2 separate regions of the Homo sapiens genome follow, and region 1 is linked to region 2. The links come from fine-mapping of genetic effects on gene expression. A gene starts in region 2. The other region holds a variant in brackets. All regions are shown on one strand. Distances are between the middles of the regions. Region 1 overlaps CCM2 (CCM2 scaffold protein). Region 2 holds the start of MYO1G (myosin IG).

Region 1 (5,379 bases), 68 kb before region 2:
ATGGCCAAGACTGTACTTCAAATTATCTCTAGATTACTTATACCTAATACAATGTAAATGTTATGTAAATAGTTGTTACACTGTATTTTTTAAATTTGTATTATTTTTTATTGTTGTAGTGGTTTTTTTATTGTTCTTTTTTTGAATACTTTCAACCCACAGTTGCTTGACTCAGGTGAAGAACCTGCAGAGGTACAGGGCCGCCTGCACACTCACAGAGTCCTCACGTATGCACTGACTTCAACCCTTTATGAAGAGCAATTTGGAAATGTCTGTCAAATTAAAAAGTAACCTAGCCTTAGATCTAGAAACTCCACTTTTGTAATTTATCCTATAGGTACAGTAAAACATACATAACAGTTGAAAATAAATTAAATATGTATTAATAAATCACTGGTTAAATAGAATATGACACAGCTATCTAATGGAATATCATGCAACCATTAAAATGGACGAGGCAGTTTTATGTGTGCTAATGTGAACACTCGGCGATAAATCAAGATACACTGTTCAGTGTAAAAAGCAAGGTGCAAACAGTGTATACCGTGTAATCATTTGGGAAACAAATGCATGTGTAAGCTCATATATGGACAGACTGTAAAGACACAAGAAGCTGGTGTCAGCAATTCCTCCCACGGAGGGTGCACATGATTTCTTTTCACCAAGAATCTCTGTTATCATTTGAATTTTGAACCATGTACATAAATTACATATTCAATTAGATAAAAATAAATAATAGGCCGGACATGGTGGCTCACACTTGTAATCTATCACTTTGAGAAGCCGAGGCAGGAGGATCGCTTGAGCACAGGAGTTCGAGACCAGCCTGGGCAACATGGCAAGACCCCATCACCACAAAAAAATACAAAAATTAGCCAGGTGTGATGGTGCAACATGTGGTCCCAGCTACTCAGGAAGCTGAGGTGAGAGGATCACCTGAGCCCAGGGAAGTTGAAGCTGCAGTGAGTCATGACTGTGTCACTACATTCCAGCCTGGGTGACAGAGTGAGACCCTGTCTCAAAAAATAATAACAAATCTGAGAAGAGCTTCTTGGGTTTGTTATCACAAATGTGATTAATTACCCTGTCCCATTATTAAAACCACACAGCAAGCCTGCTATGAGTCCATTCATAGTCACTAGGTGAGCCCACGTGAGCCTTGCACTGCACCAAATCCTACTGGGGAAAATGTCAGCTTGTGATGGAAACTACAGAAAGAATTTTTTTTTTTTTTTAGACAGTCTTGCTCTGTCACCAGCCTGGAGTGCAGTGGCACAATCTCGGCTCACTGCAACCTTCACCTCCTGGGTTCAAGCGAATCTCCTGCCTCAGCCTCCCAAGCACCTGGGACTACAGGTGCACACCACCACATCCAGCTAATCTTTGTATTTTTAGTAGAGATGGGGTTTCACCATGTTGGCCAGGATAGTCTAGATCTCTTGACCTCGTGATCCGCCTGCCTCGGCCTCCCAGAGGAATGTTTCTACTTTATGAAGGTTTTGTGAAGATTAAATGAGAAAAATATATTTAAAATGTTAAATAGTGTTGCTGCACACAGTAAGCATTCCAAAACAGAAGCTACTATTAAATCCCTCTCAACTTGTTCATTAATGTTCATTCTAAAAACAAAATACTTCCCATAAACACCACACTGGAGTATGTGGGATTAAATGTCTCCTATCACTGGTGGATTTTATTATTGTGATTGTTTTTATTTTATGAAATGTATACAGTTTAAAAAGGCAAATAAAGTTCAAAAAATTGTAAAACAAAACAACAACAATCTCCTTTACTAACTGGGACAACCCCATCCACAAACCACTTCCAAGAGGCAGCCACACTGAAGTCTTCTGATTCTTCTAGGATCTAGAGCCATTTTTCTAAATAATGGGCTTATATTCCTATTGCTTATCAATTTAAGATATTGACTTCCAATTGTATCACCATTCCCACTTTCCCTCTCTTTTCTTACAACTTAGATAATTTTTCTTAATCATTACTTAGTTTTTACATCATTTTATTATCTACATTCTCTCACTGACATGCCAAGTAGTAGTCAAATTGCAATTTCTTTATAATTAAACTTTTATTTTAAGGTAATTGTAAATTCTCTTATTATAAGAAATGATACAGGGAGATCCATCGCTCCCTTTACCCTATTGCCCCCAGCAGTGACATCTTGCAGAACTACAGCACATCACACCAGGACATGGATGTAAACACAGCCAGAGCACCCATCACTGTGAGGACCCCTCCTGTTGCCCTTTATAGGCACACCTACTTCTCTCCACCCCTAGCAAACCCTAATCTGTTCTCCACCTCAGCAACTGTGTCATTTCAAAGATGTTACAGAAAGGAACATACAGTGTGAAACCTTTAGGAACGGCTTTTTTCACTCAACATAATTCTCTGGAGGCCCATCCAGGTTGCTGTGTAGTTTGTTCCTTTGTTGTTGCTTTAAGACAGGGTCTCACTGTCATCCAGGATGGAGCACAGTGGCATGATCATGGCTCACTGCAGCCTGGACTTCCTGGGCTCAAGCAATCCTCCAGCCTCAGCCTCCCCAGTAGGTGGGACTACAGGCAGGTGCCACCATGCCCAGCCCTTTGTATTATTGAATAGTCTTCTGTGGCATGGATGGACCTCATTTTGTTTAACCATTTATCCACCAAAGGACATGGAGTTGTTTCCAGTTTTGGGCTACTATGAATACAACTGTTTTGAATATTAGTAGGCAGGTTTTCATGTGAACATAAATTTTCATTTCCCTGGGATAAATGCCTAGGAGTGCAATTGCCAAGTTGTTCGTAGTTGCACGTGGAGATTTGAAGAAACTGCCAGACTGCTTTCTAGAGTGGCGGTACCATTTTACATCCCTACCAGCAATGAATGAGGGGTCCAGTTCCTCCACATCTTCTCCAGCATCTTGTGTTCTACTTTTTTTAAACATTCTGTTAGGTGTGTATTGGCAGCTCATTATGGTTTTAATGTGCATTTCCCTGATGGCTAATGATGCTGAGCATATTTTCATGTGCTTACTGCCATCTGTATATCCTCTTCATTGAAGTATCTCCTCCTGTCTTTTGCTTATGTCTTAATCGGATTGTTTGTTTTACTGTTGAGTTTTGAGAGTTCTTTATATACTGTAGATACCAACCCTCTGTCAGATATGTGGTTTAAAAATATCTCCTCTCAGTCTGTAGCATATGTTTTCATTGTCTTTTATAGAGCAAGAGTTTTAAATTTTGATGAAGTCCAGTTTATCAGTTTTTTCTTTTATGAATTATGCTTTAGGTATCAAGTCTCAGAACTCTGCGTAGCCCTGCATCCTGAAGATTTTCTATGTTTTATCCT[A/G]GAAGTTGTATTTTATATTTAAGCCTATGATCCATTTTGAGTTAATTTTTGTGTTTAAGTTGTGAAATTCAGGGCAAGGTTCAATTTTTGCCTACAAATGTCCAACTGCTCCAGCACCATTTGTTAAAAGGCTATCCTATCCCTTCTCCACTGAATTGCTTATGAACCTTTGTCAAGAATCAGCTGGGCATATATGTGTGGATCTGTTTCTAGTTCATTTTGCTCCCCTGATCTCTGTGTCAGTCCCTCTGCAGATACCACAGTCTTGATTGTGATAGCAGTATGATCTATCTTGAAATCAGACAGGCTGACTCTTCTCATTTTCTTCTTTTTCAAAATTATTATTAGCTATTCTACTTATTTTGCCTCTCCATTTAAATTTCAAGAATAGCTTGAAATTTAAGATCGTGCCACTGCACTTTAAGAATAGTCTTGTTTATATCTACAAAAAATTCTTGCTGAAATTTTGATAGGAATTGTAGAATTCACTTTTAATAGTTACAAGCTATTCAAATTATTTCATATTGGATGACTTGTAGTAGTAGTTTGTGCTTTTCAAGGAGTTGGTCCATTTATATCAACTTAGGGACAAGTAACATACTAATTAGGTTGAGTCTTCCAATCCATGAATTCAGTGTGTCTCTCCACTTATTCAGATCTTTGATTTCTTTCATCAGTGTTCTATAGTTTTCAGCATACAAATCTTATTCATGTTTTGTAAGATTTATACCCGTGTTTCATTTTTTAAGTGATTGTGAATGGTATTGATTTAATTTTGATATCCACATATTCATTGTTCAAAAACATATCTTGTTTGTCTGAGTTTGTTTTGTTTTGTTTTGTTTTTTTGAGGCAAAGTCTCACTCTGTCACCCAGGCTGGAGTGCAGCGGCATGATCTGGGCTCACTGCAAGCTCCGCCTCCCGGGTTCATGCTGTTCTCCTGCCTCAGCCTCCCGAGTAGCTGGGACTACAGGCACCCGCCACCACGTCCGGCTAATTTTTTGTATTTTTAGTAGAGACAGTGTTTCACCATGTTAGCCAGGATGGTCTTGATCTCCTGACCTTGTGATCCACCTGCCTCGGCCTCCCAAAGTGCTGGGATTACAGGCGTGAGCCACCGCACCCAGCCCCATTTGTCTGAGTTTTTAATCAAGAATGGGTGCTGAATTTTGTCAAATAAACTTTCTGCCACTGATTGATATAATTATGTGATTTTTCTTCTTTAGCTTGTTAATATGATGGATTACATTTTTTTAAGCGGTGATTTTTCTTTTATTTCTGCAAACATATGGTATTATTAAGCAATTCATCTAACTTCCCATTTATGGAAATCAATACAAAAGTTCCAAGGTGATTCAAGTTCCCATGCACAATAGCAGGGCCTGAATGGAAACCAGGCGCTGATTTTTCAACTGAAACTGCACAAACTACTCTAAAGAAATTGCTCTATCAGCTGTCACTTCTAGCTGCACCTAGCAGCTATAACGATAGTGGAGCAAGTGTTCAACATATATTTGTTGAATAAGTTAATGTCAGATAGAAAGAAAAGGCTAGACATATGTAAAGGTATCTGATAAGATACAAATATTGATACAGCAAGAACACAAAGACAGGCCACAAATAATTTCACCAATTTCTATTATACCTTCAGAACAGCACTATCCAAACTAGTTTTGTAAAACCAAGAGGCTTTTCTAGTCATCTTGGGGATCGGTTAGAGTTTAGTTATGAAATCTTCAAAACAAAATTTTAATAACTTTTGAATTAAAAATCATATTATAGGGTATACTTAAGAGGTCTAAGGAAGGAAGGAAGGAAAATAAGAATCACTGTAACAATCACAAAGTATTATGGTTCTAGGAAAATTTGGAAATAATTATATTCTCCATAGTAATTTGCCATATGAGGTCACTAATGTCTCTTCCCTACCTCTAGAAAATGGTAATTCTCTCCATAAACTAGTAAAAAATGTTTGGTGGTTCTGTGATATAGTCTAATTCTACTGAACATAAAAAGACAGCCCA
Region 2 (5,379 bases):
ATGGGGGGAGTGGGGTACGAACCGGAAGTCTCACATCCCTGCTTAGAAAAAAAATCCCAGGAGACAGTAACTCCTGATAGCCTCCCAGAAGGATGGAGCGGGGAATGGAGCTGGCCTTGTGGCAGCGCCTCCTAGGCCTCCACTCTCAGTTCCAGGAGGCTCAGTTGAGCTGTGTGGCCTGTGGCCTATGAGAGTATACCCCTAGGTAGAGCCATTCCCCTACAATTAGCCCAATGGTATCACCTCAGATGAGGTAAAAAAAAAAAATTTTTAATAGAAATACTAAGTTATGGTACAGTTGTGTAGAGCCGAAAAAGCAACTCCCCTGAAAGGGGACATTTTTCTGGGGCTGGGGATTTGCTGCAAGGTCAGCACCAACAGAGCAAGCCTGGGATTTGAAGGTTGCAACGAGGAGGGTGAGGGCAAGGGACCTGCAGGTGCAGCCGTAGGAGCCCTGGTGGAGGCAGGCATTGTGAAACTGATCCAGATGAGATAATGAGAGGGAAACTCACTGGGGCCAGGATGGTTTCCTCAGCCCCTGCCAGGCTTGAGTTGGTGGTGGCCCCTCCTTGCTGTCCTTCCATTAGGAGCCTCTGCCTTTGTTCATCTACCTGTTCTACCAGTCATACCCTGTAAGGAGCATGCCCTGGGGAAGCTGCAGATAGAGCTACCATTTGTCCTCCCTTCTGAGGACCAGGCCGTGACTCTGACTGACCGACTTTTCCCTGGGATTTGAGTAGGACCCACTGAATTCAGTGCTATAAGGGCCCAGAGGTCTGTTGACCCAGGAGGGAACTTCCTTTGTAGTGATGTCATCTCAGCCTCGGTTTTAATATATGTAAAATGAAAATAACAGTAACTCCTACATGTGTCATGAGAATCAAATGAGGCAATGCATGGCAAATTTGTGCAAACTACCAAGGAAGGACGCCCAGGGTCCCAGCAACCAGCAGCAGCTAAAGCAAGGGCGGGCAAACTCCTCCCACCAGCCAAATCTCTGAGCTAAGAGTGGTCTTGACATTTTTAAGTGGTTAGTGGTGGGGGAAATACCCAAAATAGTATGATTACGTGACAGATGAAAAGTTTGCGAAGTTCAGATTTCGGTGTCCTTAACGTTTTACTGGAATACAGCCATCTTGGTTCCACTGGTTGGCTTGACTCCCTGGGGGTTGGGGAAGTGAAACTTGAAAAGACAGATGAGCTGGCAAGAGTCTGGGTGAGAATTCCCAGACTTGAGTGTAGGTTTGGGAAACCCTTCAAAAGCACCAGCCCAAGAGCCTGGGGGTGGGGAGGAGGCCACACTTGTCAGAGTTCCGAAGGACTGACTTTGAATTTGCCCAAGAGGAGCCCCAGGTCTGGCCCAGGGTGGAGCCAGAGGCTGCCCACTTACAAATTTGGGGATTTTTCAGGCCAGTGGCCCCTTATTGCAGTGGTGCGTGACTCAGTTTTATTAGGTACTTGAATAAGTACTTTCAGTTTTATCAGGAATGCATTTGCTTTAAGGTATTCGAGAGAAAAAAATAAACTTAACTTGCCTATCCATTACTTCAAAGTTTAAAAAATGGGATGACTGAAAGACAATAGTTAAACTAGTGCTTATGAGTACAACAAATCTCAAAGGCAGCACATGAATGACTGAAGTTTGGGAATTCTGGAGTCTGCCCTTTGACCTCCCTGTATGAGGGAAGGGGTGAAAGAGAAATGTCACCAGTCTATTTGTAGGATGAGAGAGAACTGCATCCATTTGACCTTTGATGAGAGAATCGCCCCAGTGTTCCTAGAGGATGGGTGTGACCTGCCCCAGTCTGTCCTGGGATGAAAAAGAACTTTTTCCAGTCTGCCTGGAAGCTAAGAGAACTGCACCCCTCCCACTTCTTCCAGGAGCACTAAGTGTCAGGAATGCAGTGTCTGGAGATTTTGGCCACTCCCTAAATGCAGCCGCTCCCCAAATGCGCTGCCTCATCTTCAAAGTGCAGGGACAGCAGCTCTGAGATGAGGCCACAGGGCTCCAGGCATGTTCCTGGTCCTCACTGCAGTTTATGGGGGATCGGCTGGACACAAGTACAAGGCAGAGGACAGTTAGGGGCACAGGGGTCCCACTGAAGGCCAGCCCCATGCAGAGGATGCTCTGGGGTCCTCTGTCCCTCCCCCGTGGCTGGGGTGGGGAATTGCAGTGCTAGGACCACTGGCCCTTGGCAGGTCACACAAGAAGCTTTGCTCGTCTACACCCCAGTGTGGCCTTCACACTGCAAAGAAGGCTGTTGCCCCCACCCCAAAGGCCTGGGCATTAGGATCCTTTTTCATTTTTGTATTAATGTACAATGTACATACAGTATATTGCATCTAGTGTTCAGTTCTGACTTGAGAGACACACACAGCCAGGTAACCAAGATCACGTCAAAAAATCTTTCTTTAAAGTCCCACAAGTGACTCTAACGTGCTGCCAGGGTTGGAAGCCAACCCACGGAGTCTTGTCTCCTGCTTGTGGGTGGAGGGGAGCTTCCGAAGGAGGCCAGCGAAGAACCCTCCAAAGCGGGGAGGACCCAGCATCCGGCCCCTCGCCCCTGGCGTGCAAACGGGTCAGACCGTTAGGCACAGCCTCCTTGTGGGGCGCAGGGACAGGAAGCAGGGTTTAGAGCACCTCGAGGGGGAAGGAGTGGCAAGTGCGGAGGGCAGCCCCTCCCAGGACTAGAACCCACTTCCTACTTTACACCAGCACTGGAGGAGGCTGGTGGGGCAGGGCGGGGGCGGTGGGGCCTCCCCTAGCCTTCCCTCCCCCTCTCCTTCACTGTCCTTCCAGCAGGCACAGGAAGGTGAGGCAAGGTGTTTCCAGCCGGCAGGATGGAGGACGAGGAAGGCCCTGAGTATGGCAAACCTGACTTTGTGCTTTTGGACCAAGTGACCATGGAGGACTTCATGAGGAACCTGCAGCTCAGGTAGGCCCAGGGCAGGAGGCAGTGGCTCCCCTCCTCCAGGGTCTCCCACCTTGCGTCCTCGCAGAGACCTGAGGGAAAGAGGAAGGCACGCTGCTGTCCAAGGGAGGGGGCAGTGGCACACACCCACCCAGACCAGATGGGGCTGAAATGAGTGCCTCAAAGCACGGCCCCAGGGGACAGGAACAGACAAGGAGGCAACTGTCCCTGTCAGGGCTGGCAAGTCAGCACCGGAGCTGCCCACCACCTCAACCCACCCCTGCCTCCCACACAGTCCAGGCATCTTCTGCCCCTTCTTTCCTGCCCGACGGGGCCAGGGCATGACACTTCTTGGACAGATACATACCAGGCACTATCTTTCCAGGAGGGACCAGGGGCACCTCCCTCCAGCCACTTCCCAGCCAGTTGTTGATGCTCCCTCGATGCATCTCATCCATGGGGCCTGGCCTGAGCCCTGGGGACACTGAGATGAAGCAGTCAGGCTCCACCCTAGGGTCCAAACATTCCCACCAAGTTGAGGTGACATTCTCCTGGGGTACATGGAGTATCACAGGACACAGTTGGTAGAAGTGATATTGGAGCCCAATTTACCATCAAGGAGGGCAGGTGGAGGGCAGGGAGAAGCCCGGGAGGTAGGGGCATGGCACAGTAGGGTGGCCATACAGGCAGCTGGGCTTCCTGCCAGGACTCCCAGGGAGGGGCAGAAGGCCACTCGCTGTGTACTCCGGAAGCTCCCTGGGGAGAGCTTGGGGACCAGGATCCCCACTAAGCACCGAAGGCAAGAGACCACGAGCCTGGCTCAAAGAGGAGGGCTAGCCAGGACGTGAGCTAAGCACTTTGTGCACATTGTTCTACCTCATTCTTATAAAATGAGCTTATGAAACATTGTCCTCTCTATTTTGATGAGGAGAACACTGAGCCCTGGAGACGTGGGTGACTTGTGCCCTCATCCCCAGCTTGTAGGAGGATGGGAGCTAGGCCCAGGAAAACCCATGTCAGAGGTGGTGGAGAAAGAGGAACCTCAGGACAGGCCCACCCAGGACAGGCTGCCGGGAGACAGGGCCATCCAGGGAAGGGTGGGTACCACACACCAAGGGGAGATGGGTCTGAGGGGCAGGCCTGCCAGTCCTCCTCCCAGGGGCAGAAAGGTCAAGAGAAGGGCAGACATCCACCCCCACTGGGGACCAGGTTTGTGAAGGAAAGGGTCAAGAAGTCTGAGGCTGTGCCAGGGGAGAGGCAGCAGCCACTGGCCACAGGCTGGGGGGTCGGGGGTGTAAAGACAACGACATCAACTCCCTCCCTGTCATCTGGGTGGGGCTGGGTGGGGTCCCCTTTTGTCTCTGGGTTCCCGCCCAGGCCTTGAGACAGGAAACAGCCGAGGAGGCCCCTCCTTCCCCTCCCAGCCCAGTCACTTCTCAACCCCATCTCCCCATCTGCCCTGCGGGGTTCACCCCAGGAGCCAGCCCTGACTCACGGCACCCAGTGCAGTCTTGGGCAAGTCTGTTTCCTTTGCAAAATGAGTGGTCATGTTTCCAGTGACCTTGGGATCCCTGGGGAGACCACTGTGGACCCCAAACTCTATGCCGCAATGGAGACAGTCTCTGAGTGGCTCAGCTCACCCAGGATGGCACCAGGGAGACGCAAGGTCAACACCTGCCCCCTTCTTCCTTCTCCACTCTCAGCCCGTCAGGGTGGGAGCGCTGGCCTACTGGGGCCAGGCCCTGATATGGGCTCTGGCGAAAGGCCTGTGGGTGCCTGTAAGCCTGTGAGTGCTGAGGCCTACCCCTGCTGTGTCCAGGTTCGAGAAGGGCCGCATCTACACCTACATCGGTGAGGTGCTGGTGTCCGTGAACCCCTACCAGGAGCTGCCCCTGTATGGGCCTGAGGCCATCGCCAGGTACCAGGGCCGTGAGCTCTATGAGCGGCCACCCCATCTCTATGCTGTGGCCAACGCCGCCTACAAGGCAATGAAGCACCGGTCCAGGGACACCTGCATCGTCATCTCAGGTACCTGTCCCTGCCGCCGGGCCCCCACCCTCGGCATCTTCATTTGTGAACATTTGGGAGGGCCATTAGAGCATCTCCTGTGCCCTGTGTCCTGATGGGGGCCCTAGGACCCCATCTTGCCAGTCTTGGGGGTGTGAGTGGGCACAGGGAGCTGGGCTAAGAGAGCGAACCTGGCTGATTCTCTCAACTCTGGTCTTTCCGGCAGGGGAGAGTGGGGCAGGGAAGACAGAAGCCAGTAAGCACATCATGCAGTACATCGCTGCTGTCACCAATCCAAGCCAGAGGGCTGAGGTGGAGAGGTGAGTGGCAATGGGCAGCTCTGGGCCTCAGCATGGCAGGCCAGGGACCTCAGTGTGGCAGGAAGGGCTGGCTCTGGGGAGTGAGAGACGGCAACTGGAGTCTAGCTCAGGTCAAGTTCAGTGGGAACTTGGGAAGTTTC

What was found. PIP is the estimated chance that this variant, and not a neighbour inherited with it, causes the effect. A credible set is the group of variants that fine-mapping cannot tell apart.
Region 1: its variant is the best candidate, but not a certain one, in a credible set for the expression of MYO1G in whole blood (TOPMed, PIP 0.57).

What each region holds. Positions count from the first base shown.
Region 1 is chr7:45,044,615-45,049,993 of GRCh38, reverse strand. The region is part of intron 2 of CCM2 (CCM2 scaffold protein); the gene reads right to left. Among named protein-coding and RNA genes, the nearest start is that of NACAD, 42 kb to the left of the region's middle. The variant A/G (reference allele first, on the strand shown) is at 3,355.
Region 2 is chr7:44,976,424-44,981,802 of GRCh38, reverse strand. MYO1G (myosin IG) reads left to right here and starts at 2,788. Exons shown (of 22, transcript NM_033054.3): 1 at 2,788-2,936; 2 at 4,732-4,940; 3 at 5,146-5,239. The coding sequence starts at 2,842. RefSeq lists enhancers at 1,049-1,178, 2,406-2,455, 2,486-2,555 and a silencer at 2,756-2,845.